Regions from separate parts of the Homo sapiens genome. Here regions 2 and 3 are each linked to region 1. Evidence: fine-mapped expression QTL. A gene starts in region 1. Each other region holds a variant in brackets. All regions are shown on one strand. Distances are from middle to middle.

What was found. PIP is the estimated chance that this variant, and not a neighbour inherited with it, causes the effect.
Region 2: its variant is the best candidate, but not a certain one, in a credible set for the expression of COL6A5 in testis (GTEx, PIP 0.75).
Region 3: its variant is the best candidate, but not a certain one, in a credible set for the expression of COL6A5 in lung (TOPMed, PIP 0.70).

What each region holds. Positions count from the first base shown.
Region 1 is chr3:130,343,124-130,348,354 of GRCh38, forward strand. It overlaps COL6A5 (collagen type VI alpha 5 chain), which reads left to right and starts at 2,549. Exons shown (of 41, transcript NM_001278298.2): 1 at 2,549-2,858.
Region 2 is chr3:130,387,170-130,392,400 of GRCh38, forward strand. It overlaps COL6A5 (collagen type VI alpha 5 chain), which reads left to right. Exons shown (of 41, transcript NM_001278298.2): 6 at 1,411-1,965; 7 at 4,010-4,585. Among named protein-coding and RNA genes, the nearest start is that of COL6A5, 44 kb to the left of the region's middle. The variant G/A (reference allele first, on the strand shown) is at 2,862.
Region 3 is chr3:130,516,182-130,521,412 of GRCh38, forward strand. It overlaps COL6A6 (collagen type VI alpha 6 chain), which reads left to right and starts at 996. Exons shown (of 37, transcript NM_001102608.3): 1 at 996-1,216. The variant C/A (reference allele first, on the strand shown) is at 3,157.

The sequences.
Region 1 (5,231 bases):
TTAGGTCCTAGACTGGGTGAATTTCAGGTGGGTTTTGCAAGACGGAAAACTCTTTGGGTTTGGCAGAGTTCGTGACATGATAGCTTTAAATTGTTGGACACGGGGAGATGAAGGAGTTGAAACAAGTCTTCTAGAGCAAGCTGGTTGATATAGATAAGTAAGCCACTTTGATTAGTCACAGCCTTGTCCATTAGGAGCAAGTATTTCTTAAAGCAAGTAGCTAAGTCATTTTTGCTTATTTTCGGCATGGCTTAAACATAGAGAAAGTAAAGTATACTATATTCCAATATTATTTAGTACACAGAGAGGAAAGTATTTGGCTTCAGTTATCGATAATGCATTTTAATTGTTAACTTTTTATCTGTTGGTATATAGGCATGACCAAAGGACATTGAGTCACATGTAAGAAAAATGCTATTTTATCTTTTAATAGTTCTGATTGCATCAATGAGAAAGTTAATCATATTCCATTTAAATCATCTCACATCCAAAATCATCTTGCCTATTTCTGATAGTACGGTTTTCACATTTGCAGACATACCATCAATATTTCCCAGTGGGAATCAACGAGTGCAGGGTAGAGCAGAATTTGCTATCTTTTACTCTGATGTTATCTTCTTATTTAAAACAGCTGCAGAAATACAGATTATGAAGGTTGGGTTAATAAAAGGCAAATATAACTAATGATGAAGCCTGAAAAAAAATTTAATGTCTTTTCCACACTTTTGAAATTCTGGATTACTTTTCTTTTATTCAATATCTTTTTATTTTCTAGAGAAAATGGAAAGTGAAACCCAAGTCAGATAAAGTAAGTTCAATTGTGTTCTATTCTGTTAGAAAATTGAAAAGTTGGCACTTTTAGTGCCTGAATTCCTTCAGATATTAAACTCCAAACTTCTACTTTCTGAAGTAAATTAAGTTAATATATCCTTAATAGAATAAATGCAATTCTAAATAGTGAATAAATTTCACATTATGATTTATTTTGGGAAAACCTTGTTTCAATTTTATAAGCAGAAGAAAGGAAAGGAAATGTTAAAATCTGTGGAAAAGTTGTAGATTCCTGGAGCCACTTTTATTTCATGATTGTGAAAGTTAAATCACAAATATATTGCAAGTAAAAAAATTTCTACAATAATACTTTCTAGAGAAGTTTCTAAACAACAAAAGAACCCCCAAAACACAAACCCACAACTTCCTTTTGGCTTCAGTACTATTTGGATATTACCCTAATTGTGAAGGCAAAACCCCACCCTTCTCCTGAAGTATAAAGTAGGCCTTCTTTCTCCCTTGGGGCATTACTCTTGGTTGGGGAAGAACATCTCAATTAATAAATCTTTACACACTGAGGGTATGTGGACATCATAGTAGCAAAATTTCGGCCTGGGCCAGGCATGAATGTGAAATAGATGTATATTTTGTCCCCCCAGACTCTAGCTTCTTGATATTCCAGCCCATAGATTCTCTCTGTGCTTCACTCTGGTGACCAATGGAACATTTTCCGTTAAAACCTGGACAAATCTGAGACTCACTGATACCGAAGGGCAAGTCTTGGCATTCAAATCCAGGATTTCAGGATGTTCTGTGCAGAACACCCCATAACCCTGACTATTCCAAGTGAATTCAAAATAGATAAAATACACTTTTTTTTTAGAAAAACCATTTTCAACTTACATCAGTTTTTTCTTATTAATGAAAAACAACAAAAAAAACAAACAGTTTTTGGTTTACACATATTTGTGTTCTCTTTGAAAAAAAAAAATTTAATAATAAAAGGAGAAAATCCTGAAAGTCCTCATTACACTTCCCTCTCTTCATTCTTCCAACCCACTCTTTCTAACACATATTTAGAAACTTTCTAGTTAACTTCAGAAGCAATCTCAGAATCGGGTTCTTGCTGAGCAAGGGTGAGCTCCCATGTCTTATGTTTCCTCTTGACATTTTAATAAACTTTCATCAGTGTAAGTAATTGTAACATATCTCTTCACAGACAGCCTGAAGAAGCTAGCAGGCTGAAGCAATGGATTGATTGAACTTAACCACTCAAGCTAGGAGTACATTTACTGGCAGGTGTTATACAGATATGTAATATAAAATCTCAACCTGAGTACACGTCCATGCAAACCAACAAAAAATAAGCCATGCATGTAAGAATAGTCTATGCTTTCCAAGTTCTTCACTATGATCCATGTACTAAAAATCACAACTTCATTGTGTTGCCTGCTCCATTTCCCCATCCTGCCCTTTCTAGAAGTTGCTGGATAAAACTCCTGCTGCCTCTAGCATCAGGGGTGCGTTACTTTTTCTCTTGTAGGGCTTCCCCCAGGACTTTGCTCCTCCTTGGGCATTTTCGTTGGGAGGCTGCCTCTGAGAAATTGGGGGACTTGGAGCCAAATGGCGATTCCTCTGTCTAAGTAGTAGAAGTGACCGCAGCTCGGCTGCTAGTAAAGATTGCCCTTGGTTTCTGAGAAATTCTGACTCCCTAAGTTCATTTGGCAGCCGGCGGCTTCTCTGAAACAAAGCCAGCAAACAGCTGGAGCGTCTCTGGACACTCACATTAAAACTTGTGAAGAGTTAAAAGCCCCAGGGAAGAGCCAGGCCAAGGGCACGGGTCAGCGCCGGCTTAAAAGACCCTCTCAGGGCACGAGGCGTTCGCTGCGGGAATCCACCTGCAGCTGTGCGGCGCGGACCAGGGCGTGCGGCGCGGACCAGGGCTTCCGGCGCGCGCTCTATCCAACTGCGCCGCGGGCGCCCGAGAGGCGCGCGTTTACTGCGCTCAGGAGCTCGGTGCAGCCTCTTCTGGAGAGTTGGGGGCGGTTTCCAGGGTCCGGAGTGTCCCCTGACCCCGGGAAAGCTGGGTAAGTATGCGGTGCGGGGACTTGGGGCCTGAGGCAGGCGGGGGAGGAAACCTCGAGTAGACAGGTGGATGTGAGAAGGATTCTCCTTTCTGGTGATTTGCACCTGTTGACGCCCCCAAATCTGAGCTCTAAGGAATTTTACAGATGGTTAAGACAGGTTCTGAAAGGTAGACTCAGAATTCGAAAGGACCTTAGAGCAGTGCTATCCGAAGTGTGATGCAAGGACTAATAGCATCGCCTTGCCCTTGAAACTTGTTAGAAATGCAAATTCCTGGACCCCACAAAACCCTGTTGAACCAGAATCTCTGGGAATGGGGATAAGGAATGTGTATTTTAACAATCCTCCACGGGATTCTGATGCAGCTAAAGTTTGAGAACCATTGCCTTAGAAGTCACTTAGTCCTACATTTGAGCCCCTAGCCCCAATGCAGGAACCCCCAAATAAACAGCAATGGGTGTGTAGGTAATGAGTCAAAGGCATTAGATACTGGGGTGTATTCAGTTATAAAAATAACTTCTAAACACTCTTGGTTTGTGGGAATTCTATTCTGTCCCAAACGAAACTGTGATCTTTGAGATTTCCTAAGAACAGCACTCAGAGCTTCAACAACTATTTCTGAGTTTGTACTGTGTGCAAGTCTCCAGGTAAGGTTCTTTCAAAGTGCTGGAGGGAATTTTGTACTCTCAGGATCCCCAAGCTGGTAGCGTGTTATTTCTCTTACCAGGATCTTCATAAGTTGATGTAGTGCTTCATACATCACATTTATTTTGTTTTTTGGTATTCAACTGCTTGTTCTGAAATTAATCATTGTTAACTCAGGGTGTCAGGTTAGGTATCTTGGAAGATATATATTTACTTTGTGAATTCTGAACAAAAATCCTTAAGAAAAAATTCACACTGCAAGATTTTTTTCCATTTTTTCTATTTAAGTTTACAGTGCTACAATTTACCAATAGAATAAGTAGGAATCCTGAGATTTCATATGAATTAAAGTAGAGAAGATAATTCCCAAGTTTTTAAATAACTCCTTCAGATGAGGCAGGCTCTTCATCACTGCTGAGAACCTGAGCCATTAATCTTTGATGACGAATGAATGGTTTTGTGTTGTTATTATTATTCTCCTTTCAGTGGCTTAACTTAAAATATGAAATCTAAATCCACTGCTGACTTACTTGGAGACTCTGGAGCAAATTTATTTGCAGATATTTCTCAGTTTTCCCTTTTCTTCAATGGGTGGGTGCAGGATGTAAGGTTTTGATAGGGAACCTGCTAGCATTATCTTAAAGTAGTTCCCCGGAGGACCCTGTGTGGTTATGATATTGAACTATTATTAATATGTTAAAGCATAGAAAACATTCAATACAATGATTTTATATTTAATTATTTTATATATATATATTAAGTTAAAACATCTAAAAGGCTTTTTCACAGATTTCAAAAACTAATCACCTCTCTGTTTGAAAAGAACTTTGGAAATGTCAGTAAAATTGGGAGCCATTGCTAGCAATGTTATGAGCCTGTGAAAATAAAGTTTGCCACTGTAAATATTTCCCATCTTGAATCATAGCTACATGCAGAAATTGTTCATAAGTATTCAATGAGCATATGCTTAGCATCCTTCTATAATGAAGTGTAAGGCTGACACATATGTCTTGTTTGCATTGTATTTCATGTTGTGATTTTCCTTCCTCAAGTTCAAATCATCTTCCAAAAAGGAAGAATTTTCAACCCCGGAGCATATACTCAGAATCCTCCAGCTCTGAGAGTGGAGGGCACAAATTCACTTGGAATGTGTACTTTTCTTGGTATTGCAGTTTGCTTTGATGATGCCCCTGTCAATCTTGTAGGATCTCAGATCCAGTACACACTGAGCAAGTGGAAAGTGCAAAGGAAGAGGAGTTGGGCACTGGGCAAAGTTGGGATCTAAGATAAAACGAGATGCATGCCTACTTTATGAGGAAGGGCTGACTGGTGGTGCATGTGGCAGTTGCAAACATTTTTGTTGCCCCATCAATCCCTGGTGCTTTATGATACTTCCCTAAATTCCTCTGGCCTATTCCCTAACATGCACACAACTCACTACCCACAACCATTGCCACTTGCCATTCTCCAAGGAACCATTCTTTTTTATTTTTAATTTTACTTTAAGTTCTGAGATACATGTGCTGAACATGCAGGTTTGTTACATAGGTATACATGTGCCATGGTGGTTTACTGCACCTATCAACCCATCATCTAGGTTTTAAGCCCCACATGCATTAGGCATTTGTCCTAATGCTCTCCCTTCCCTTTCCCCCAACTCCCTGACAGGCCCTGGTGTGTGATGTTCCCCTCCCTGTGTCCAGGTGTTCTCATTGTTCAACTCCCACTTA
Region 2 (5,231 bases), 44 kb after region 1:
GTTTTAATGGTAAGACCCAGAAGTGGCCAGATCACTTTTTTCTCATACCTTTTGGTTAAAACTTAGACACAAGGCCACAGCTAGCTTCAAGGAAGGCTGGGAAATACAATCTTTAGATGGGCAATCATCTGCCTATCTAAAATTTTATTAACATAGAAGAATGGAAAGATAGATATTCAGGGACATTAAGTAGTTTCTGTCACAAATAGATACCAGGAAGTAGATCCTGTGAATACTAAACTGTATGTAGAAGCCTATTTCTTTTATATGTGTTACATGGAAGAGAATCTTTCACACTTCACTACAGTGGTCAAGGCCACTCTGTCAAGGCCACAAACATCTTCAGCAATTTCTCCTCTCATGACTTTCAAGATGGTTCCATGGCAGCTTGAATCTTAAAATGGTGGTGTAGTCCTCCTGGTGGATCAGAATGTGACCTTACACGTTTATTAAGTAATAGTTAACATCTTTTCATTTTTTTAATATATGGCTGATGCTATGTTTATTTTCAAGAAGTATGGGATAGACTTCAGAATGTTGAGGGAGAAACTGTAAGAGGATGGCAGAGATTACAGATAGACAAAAGGGATTAAGACTAAAAAGATACATGCTAAAGACAATATATTTGCATATTATATATATACACAACATATGTATCATGAATTAATAATATTGTTTTTAATAGATTATAGAAATTGGTTTTATATGTGTACATATGTCTATATTATACATAGAACAATGAACATACATATGTGTGTATATATATGTATATATATATATACGTATGTCTGTATGTTCATTTCCAATCAGTAGGCTGTCTACAAATATTATGTATAAAGGAACAGTCCATGTTGAATGAGTATATGCTTACTGAAGCACTTATCTCTAGTAAAAACTTTTTCTCCAATTTCTAATATTGATTTATAGTGTTTATGAAATCACTTAGAATTATCCCAGAAAATAATGCTATTTAAAAATTATTTGAAATTGTGTTTCTCCAGAATATACATAAAACCCTGGAGTGTTAGTACTATGAGTGCAAGGAATTGATTGCTTTGGCTCTGGTTCCTTTTTTGTATCACTACTGCATCTTTAACACATGGCTGGATGCCTGGCATTTTATACAACTCAAAATTATGATTGAATGAATGAAAGAAATATGAATAAATGAGTTATGCATGCATGCATGCATGCATGAATAAATACACATTTTGGAAGCTGCATTTCTGATTCAAGGTTCTAGTCAACCAGCTTCTACTAAAGAAGCAAATACAATTTTCAAACATAACAACAGTTGCCTGAGTTAATTTTCAATGTTTTCTCATTAATGCATTTGTTTCTGCCTTAATGTTACTTCATGAGAACCTTTCCAACCTGGTTATTTCTGGTCTTTTTTTTTATAACATGCAGGATGTGAAGACATGAAGGCCGACATCATGTTTCTGGTGGACAGTTCTTGGAGTATAGGAAATGAAAATTTTAGGAAAATGAAAATCTTCATGAAAAACCTGTTAACTAAAATTCAAATTGGTGCAGACAAAACCCAGATTGGTGTTGTTCAGTTCAGTGATAAAACTAAGGAAGAGTTCCAGCTTAATAGATATTTTACACAGCAAGAAATTTCTGATGCAATAGATAGAATGTCTCTCATCAATGAAGGCACTTTAACTGGAAAGGCACTAAATTTTGTAGGTCAATACTTCACCCACTCCAAGGGGGCCCGTTTGGGGGCCAAAAAATTTCTCATCCTCATCACAGATGGAGTAGCGCAGGATGATGTGAGAGATCCTGCTAGAATTCTTCGGGGCAAAGATGTGACCATCTTCTCTGTAGGAGTATACAATGCCAATAGATCTCAGCTAGAAGAGATCAGTGGGGATAGCAGCCTAGTTTTTCATGTTGAGAACTTCGATCATCTAAAGGCACTAGAAAGGAAACTTATCTTTCGTGTGTGTGCTCTCCATGGTAAGTGTCCCTGTTATCTGTCAGGACTAAAGGATGTGAGCTGTTGACTTTATAATGAGAAACAGTGAATGGCACTCTGGCCCTGACCTCCACCTGGACTTCAGTGTTAAGTTTTGGTCTTCTTTATGTAATATTAAAATGCCTGTGACCTCCAGGAATGTTTCAGACTAACAATTTTGGCATCTAGTTTGGCACAAGTTAGTATGGCATTGGTGACTTCAAATATGTTCCAAAAAGATCCCAGAATTTTACTTTAAACTTACAAATCTTTAATACCCACATGCCTGGATTTTCCAGAGCCAGTTTTTAATCCCAAATGATTTTCTAGAATTGTTTCTTGGCTATCTATGACCATTGTTAAGCAGAAAATAACTAGAAATACAAATTCGTCTTTCTTTTAGTTAAATTATATCTAGTATCCTAAGCACCACCCACCAAGAAAACCCTGGGTATTTTAAAGATAGTTTATTTTCATTACTTCACATTATTATTCTTAACCTCTATCAACTGGATATTTTATATTTGCCTGTTCGTGTATCCATCCCTTTGAAAAATTGTAATTTGTCACTTTTCTGATTACTTGGGGTCATCATTTTATTCTTACAAATTGTAGTGCTTTTAAAATTGTATTGTGCAACCTTCAGTTTGAGCCTATCAATTTTAATGTCTTTTGAATGAGAGCTTTCTCTCAATCCACACATAGACTAAAACACCTATGTTTTTAAATCTATCATGTGCTATTTTCTGTGTTTTGGATACAACTAAGAAAACAAACCCAAGTAAGTTTGTTTTGTGTTGTTCCTGTGGCAACATAGAGATTTTCATTGGACTTTATTCGTCAAAATTATGCATGTGGAATTTTCAGAAACTTAACATAATGTCTTATAAACACTTAA[G/A]TGTTAGGTGATAGTTCTAAAGTTTCCTTGGTAACAGCTTAATTGGAATTTTCTTCTTCCCCCAAAGATGGCAGTGATTCCAAAACTCTTGATAATGTTGAGAGGTGTACCTAAAGGCTATAGCTTCAACTTTGAAACCTGCAAGGCTCTTCTTGGCATTTCTTCATTTTGATTAATGTAAATGTGGAGGCCCTGTCTACAGCATAACCTGAAATTCAGCTGACTCATGCATTAGATTGTCTCCTAAGTATCAGGTCATGACTAGTCACCAGTTCTCAGTGGGTCATTGACCAAGGTTTTTACAGATACAGCCTGGGGACATTCACAGTGTCAGAAAATTAAAAATTTGAGACTTTATTATTAGAAATAAGAGTTGACAATTAGCTAGGCAGGTGGAAAGTGGAGAAAGCCAATCTTTGGAATACATGTGCATAAGTTATTGAGGGAAGGAAAAGAGTGGGGAAAGAGTCCACACTTTGGAAAGCCAGCCAAAACAGTCATTTGTCTTACAATGTGGAGGAGGGTTTGGGGTCAGGGAAAAGGTGATAGGAGTTTTTGCTCTCCTCCTACTTGGGGCCACTTCTTTCTGAGTTCTAATTCAAAAGGTTAGGGGAAAAAGCATAAATAACTGCAGAGAGACATGATAAACAGGGATGGTTTGCATACCCGAGGGTCCAAAGATACCTGGAGCCAGAGGGAGTAGGGTAAAACTACCAACTTATACAGTGAGCTCCTGAGCTTTTCGAAATAGCAGGCCAGTTTGGCAAACATCAGTATATCTCGCCATTACATTGGCATGGAACTAGCTTCTAACGTTGCCTTTCAGTTGAAAGCCTGCTTAGCAAAAGACATTACATGTCCTAATGAGATATATCAAAATAGAGTGGTGTGGCATAAGGACCAGCAAACCTGGAGTGATATAGATAGGGTACAAATGTCTTTGGAGTCATGATGTAGGCAAGTTGCACTTCTCTGAGCCTTGACTTTTTTTTTCTGTAAAATGGCAGCAGCCACCTCTAAGAACTAAGTGAGATATAGTGTCTGACACATAGTAGGCTCATGGCAAATGCCAGTTCGCTTCCCTTCTCAGCACCCTGCGTAGAATGCACTGCAGAAAGTTTGTGACTCCTGTTTTCATCTTCTTTCAGATTGTAAAAGGATTACACTACTAGACGTTGTGTTTGTGCTGGATCATTCAGGTAGCATAAAAAAACAATATCAAGATCACATGATTAACCTAACTATCCATTTGGTGAAGAAAGCAGATGTTGGCAGGGACCGAGTTCAGTTTGGAGCCCTCAAATACTCTGACCAACCTAACATCCTTTTCTACCTTAATACATACTCGAACAGATCAGCAATAATTGAGAATCTGCGGAAGCGCAGGGACACTGGAGGGAACACCTACACTGCCAAGGCTCTCAAGCACGCAAATGCCCTGTTTACAGAGGAACATGGCAGCCGCATCAAGCAAAATGTGAAGCAGATGCTGATTGTCATCACCGATGGGGAATCCCATGACCATGATCAGCTCAATGACACAGCATTGGAACTGAGAAACAAAGGCATCACCATCTTTGCAGTGGGTGTAGGAAAGGCCAACCAAAAGGAACTTGAGGGTATGGCAGGGAATAAAAACAATACTATCTATGTAGATAATTTTGACAAACTGAAAGATGTTTTCACACTTGTTCAAGAACGTATGTGTACTGAAGCACCAGAGGGTAAGTTGTTACTTTTAAAGTTTCTATGGGGGTAGCAATAAAAGTTTAAACAAAAAGTAAATCATAAGTCTCAGGTCTCCGATTACCTGGATGTTATGGACTGAACATTTCTCTGCTCAGGCTATCAGTTTTCTCATCTCTAAAAGAAATGGGTTGATTGAACAAGATCCCAAAGTTTCCTTCTCACCACAGCATGCACTGAAGAGATTATACAGGAAAGTTCCAGATGCATTCCGTGGCATTTTACTACTCTGTTGCCTTTTTCTGGCAGAAAGGAATTCTTCTTAGGGTCATATTCACCTTACCCCAAGTAATGGCTGCTCATGGTGCTCCATTTGGTTAATGCTCTCAATGCAGCCACTGGACATCAGTTTCAGGTCAAACTCAAACGGAAAGTTTCATGGTTTAAATGGATAGACTTTTGCCTTCAAAGATCCAGGGCCCTCTAAATGAGATCATAGGCATTCTAGAGAGGCATCAAAATTCAAGTGGCCTGATGTGCTTTTCTGGGTAAGCGCCACCTGTGCAGAGGGCAGGATATGAGAGTTGAACGTAGGGTAATGGAAGCTGGCTGAGAGAAACAGGGAGGGAAGGGAACTGAGATGATTACCAGCTACCATTGGGGTTGGTAGGCTGGAGACATCAC
Region 3 (5,231 bases), 170 kb after region 1:
CAAACTTGGCTACTCTGGAGAAGTCAGTGCTCCCTCTCTCTTCCCTGCTGCTCTTCCATTTGCCTGAGACCCTCTTTTCCATGCTTTTCTGTCTAGCTCCATCTTTGGATTTCAGTTTGGACTTAATTACCTCAGAGAAGCTTCTTTTGGCCTTCCAAGGTTGAGTTGGGATCCCCTCTTCTGGGTTCCTATGGCATCATTTCCCCATTCAGCAATTGCCACACTGCTTTTTGTTTCCTTGTCTATCTCCCTAACCAAACTGTGAGCTAAGGTGTCGACTTTGCTGTTTTTTTTTTACCCCAAGCATCTGATAGTAGTGCATAGTAGGTGCTCAAATATTTGTGGAATCAACAACAACAAAAAATAGATAGATGAGTGAATGGACAGATAGCGAGAAGAGAAAAAGGTCAGTAGACAAAGAGTCAAGGATATTCTCCTTGGGACTCCTGAATTCGGACCAGAGAGTAGGGAAACTGGGGAGGTAGGGGGCGTTGAGGGTGGGATGAGGTGGTGGCTCTGGACCTTAATCTCACGGTCTTCGTTCCCACGGAAAAGGGAGGAGTTTCTACAACCCAAAGACTCTCTCTGGCTCCCTTGCTAGATCCTGCCTTCTGCCAGAAGACCCCAGAATACAGGCAAAGCCGCCAAAGAACAACAGTTCCAACGGTAGGAGCAGAGCTACTGCCTTCAGTGCGCCTCGGATCTGCACGCCCTGCCTATCTTTGGGGTACAGAGAAGGCGCGTACCATGAAAGCCCCAACTTCCCCTCTTTCTTTTCTCCCACGGTCGGGACCTTAGGGTAGGAGTTTCAAGAGGGGAGAAGCCGGTGGAGCAGTAACAGCCTTCATAATGTCTCCAGTCCCGCTTCCGTCACCTCCCTAAGGCTGCGCCCCCCTCCTGGGGGACGTGCGCTGGGCCCGGGGCCGCCGGGGCGGGGAAGGGTCGGGCCCGGGGCGGGGAGAAGCGTTTATATGTCGGCGAGGGGCGTGGGAGCTGCCACCCGCTTGCCTGCGGGACACCGGAGTCAAGAGGCTGCCCACGCCGCTGCCTGTCCGTTCCACGGTTCCGAGGTCTCCACCGTCTCCCCGCGCGCCGCAGGCGGCACCAAACTCTGCGCTCCCCGCGGTGCGCCCTGCCCGCGCAGTGCGCGTCCAGAGGAAATCCGCCCCGGGCTTTCGAAGTGCAGGGCTGGGGGCTGCATGGAAGTTTCCCCAAGGTAAGTCCAGGAGCCAACGCTGGGACAGCAAGAGCCAAAACTAGGTTTACAAGTGATCAGTAGTTGGATGGGAGGGACCGGCCAGAATAGAGGAGGCTGCATGAGAAAGACTGCGGTGGAGGGAAATAAGTGAATTTCAGAAGCTCAAAAACTCCTCCTTTGGCTTTTCTCCTCCTCCAAACAAGAGTAACTGCCCTCACCTCGTCTTTCTTTTAATTTTTCGCATCCGACTGTTGAAGAACCTACAGCACACTCTTGTCATTCTCTGCTCCCATCTCCGCGTCTCCCACCGCGCACCAGGGCGCCTCCTGAGAGGTGCGTCACCCAACACTGTGTCCTCACAGCACAGGGCCTGGCGAGTGGCATGTACAGTGGACCACTCTCGGAAACAAATGAATGGAGTTAATCAGGGTGAGTCAGGAAAAGTCACTCCCAAGCCTGTACATTCCCAGTCTGTACTTTTGTTCTTGCACTTCACACAAATTTATTAAAGAGGGTTGGACTTTTACTGCTGTCTGAGGGGAGGAAGGAAAGCAGAGAAAATGCACCCTTTTCTCAATTCCCAGAAACATTCTACTCTGAGCGGAACCCCAATTACCTGGCTCAGTATCAACCATGCAAGTAATTTTGAAGAGGAGAGGAGGCAGGCTGGAAGAGGAAAAAAAATGTTAAAACTAGGAAGTGATTTTCTTTTCTTTTTTGTCCTTTTGTGACAAGGATTTCTCATTCTCTTGTTAAAAGTCTACTCTATGGATATATTTAAAGAGGACCTTTTGCCAGTGGATGGGTGTGGGGGTGATAGGAGAGAGGGGTGGTGACGGTGATTAGGAATATCTGAGACAGTAAAAATCCTAACACTTGTGGCAGGAAGGATAACAGCAGTTTTCTGTTAAGAATTCTATAGTTACAGAATTCAGCAGTCATGTTACTTTTTCTAAACTAATCTATTTAATGAGTAGTATTTTTAATATAAAATGTTCAATGTTAAATTTATTGTTCAGTGTCTTCATAGAGGAAGTCACTTACATAAAAATCCTGAAACTTCTAAATAATGTTCTTTAAAATACACAGCCTTAATAGTTCTTGTCTTTATAAAAGAGGTTGTCAATTAATTTCTCCTTTTTTTTGAGACGGAGTTTCTCTCTTGTTGCCGGGGCTGGAGTGCAATGCGCCATCTCAGCTCATCGCAACCTCCGCCTCCCGGGTTCAAGCGATTCTCCTGCCTCAGCCTCGCGAGTAGCTGGGATTACAGGCATGAGCCACCATGCCCGGCTAATTTTGTATTTTTAGTAGAGACGGGGTTTCTCCATTTTGGTCAGGTTGGTCTCGAACTCCTGACCTTAGGTGATCCGCCCGCCTCAGCCTCCCAAAGTGCTGGGATTACAGCAATTTCTCCCTCATTTTATTCCAAAATATTAGAAGTGCAGAGGAGAGAAAAAGAAGGAGAAAAAAAATACCGTGCCTCAAAAGAAGGTGTGTTTTGGATGTTGTGCCATGTGAAATCAAATTTTATAATGTTCATGAAAGATGTTAGGTTAAGCATTCATTGGAGAATCATCTTTGGCTTTTATATTTTAGTAATTTAAAAAATTTAATTTTGCTAAATTTTTTGTGAACCAATTCTCCGGAAATACTATTGTTGAATATAAATACTTGCAATTTTCATTTTTTCCATTCCCTTCAGATAGTCTGAATTTCAGAAAGTTTCAGTATTTTGAATATTTTGCAGAAAATATTTATTTATTTGTATAGACAGTATCAAGAGCATCTAATTAAGTCACCAAATGAAGATCAGGTTGTAAAAATTATGAATAAAAATTGGTGCCTTATTTAATAATCTCTATACTTAGTACACTATAAAGTCCCACTAATACAATGGTCTTAAAAATGACTAAAAAGAACTTCTCTGTCAGTAAATATCCGCTGACCCTGGAATTCCT[C/A]AAAAATATGGGTTTGTGAGCTAGACCCCCTGCAAATATATAAAAGTGATCCAGACTAATGATTATGTGTTGTAATCTAAGAATACTCATTCCTACAGTCCTAAGAAATAAGTAGGAAGATTAGATTTTCTATGCTTCTTCTTATGCTTCTAAAAGATTCATGAACATGACTTTTCCAGGATGATTGTTGGCCAAAATTATTTTTTTTCCTTTCCTGACCTTATTGTCGTTATTTAAAGTATAAGGTAGATTAGCTTTGCTCTCCAACAGGTCTAGATTCAAGTTATAGACAAACTCAAACAATGCAGTTACCTCTCTGAGTCTTATTCTTGTCACCTGTCACATAGGGCAGTGATATCTACCTACCTCACAGGGGTGTATGGGGAAAAAAACAAGATCTTCGTAAAATGCCAAGCACAAGTGCTCAATAAATGAGGACAATGGTGATGGCGATGGTGGTGGTAAAGCCATCATCATCATTAGATCAGGCAAATAGAATTGTTTCCAATAATTTAGTTACTATTGAGCCCAATTTTATCCTGTGTTCTGACCTCACTCAAATACTTTGTTTCCATGGAATGTAATACATGATTAACAGGAACGAATGATCCGCCAAACATTGTAATCTCCTTGGAAGTGTTCTAGTTTGTAGAGATCATGGAGATCATTTAGGGCCTGTCACTCTGGCATGCTGCTATCCTGGAAGAGATGTTTGAGGATTGTGGCTGTTTTGCTTTTACTACAAATTTCTTCATATCTTAGGCTTTAGCATTTGAGGAGACTTTTCCGTGAGGGTCAAATTATGCCTGCAGGTAGGAGGCTTTTAAAAGTGCACTCAGTGTTTTAATTTCTTTAGCTAATGCTTTTGCAATAATAAAAATGTCTTTCTACTTTCAGCAGAAGAGTATTATATTTAGATTTTCTGAATTTTAAAGCAGTTACCAAAAGCTACGCTAAGTTTTTCAAAGGAATTTAAAAGGCATAAATGATCCTTTACAAAATAGTGACTAAAGGCCGACCTTTCTAAATGAAAAAATAACTGAATCTTATTCTCAATTCCTCTTCTGTTTCCTCGCCCTCCTTCCAAAACTGGTTTTTTCTTGAGGTGACCCCAAGGCCTTGGCATGGAAATTTAGAGGAGATTACCACATAAAAATAGATACCATTAGCTAATATAAGTCATGTACAGAAGAAAAGATCTTTTGTGTCTCTTGTATCCCTAATGCTTCCCACAATACCTAGCACTTAGTAGGTATTCAGTAATATTTGGTAAGTGAAGGACTTAAAATTTCAAAATTCTGGCTAAATTATGCATCTCATGTAAAGCTGTAGCAGTTGCACTTTGAAAATCCAATAACATGCAAAATCTCAGGGAAAATTCCTAACGTGAAAAATCTCGGGACAAGATAAAGGAGGCAGTATCATCTTTGTGTCTCTACTTCTGAAGTTCAGTCTTACTAAAACACCTGGTCTATCACTACTGACTCTAAATCTTATCTTTATGAGCTATTTTGATTGACTGACATAACCCTAAAAACTAATGCATTTAACAGTCCCGAAGAACAAGTCTAAGGAGATGTACTCATTTAATTTTGGAATGATGAGAAAATTTTTCCCCAAATGCTCAACTGGTAGAGGGGAGGGAAGAAGAATAGAATATACAAACCAACTTAGTCTTGCAAATGTAAACCTCAGTATTCTCCTTAAGTCACAAAGGCACAAATAAATATACATGTAACCATTTTAAAACCATTTACAGTTAAGGATGTGAACATTGATTTGACTCTAAAATATTTTTGTATTGCTCTAAGTACTGTATCCTACACTTTAGAGGGGAAAGATTTTGCCAGAGTTAGTTGGCAAAGGCATTTGTGTTGGCTTGAAAAACCATAAGCTAATCACTTATTTAGTCCGTTAAAAACAACTTGATTAATGTTTGGTAAGAAATTCTGACTAAAATTCTCCATTATATGCTTCCAAATACAATAGAACTTTGAAGATCATAAGCAAGTCACAGTCATATTTGGCTATTACTGTTTGTTATAAAACAATACCACAGTATGTCAAATGGTCTG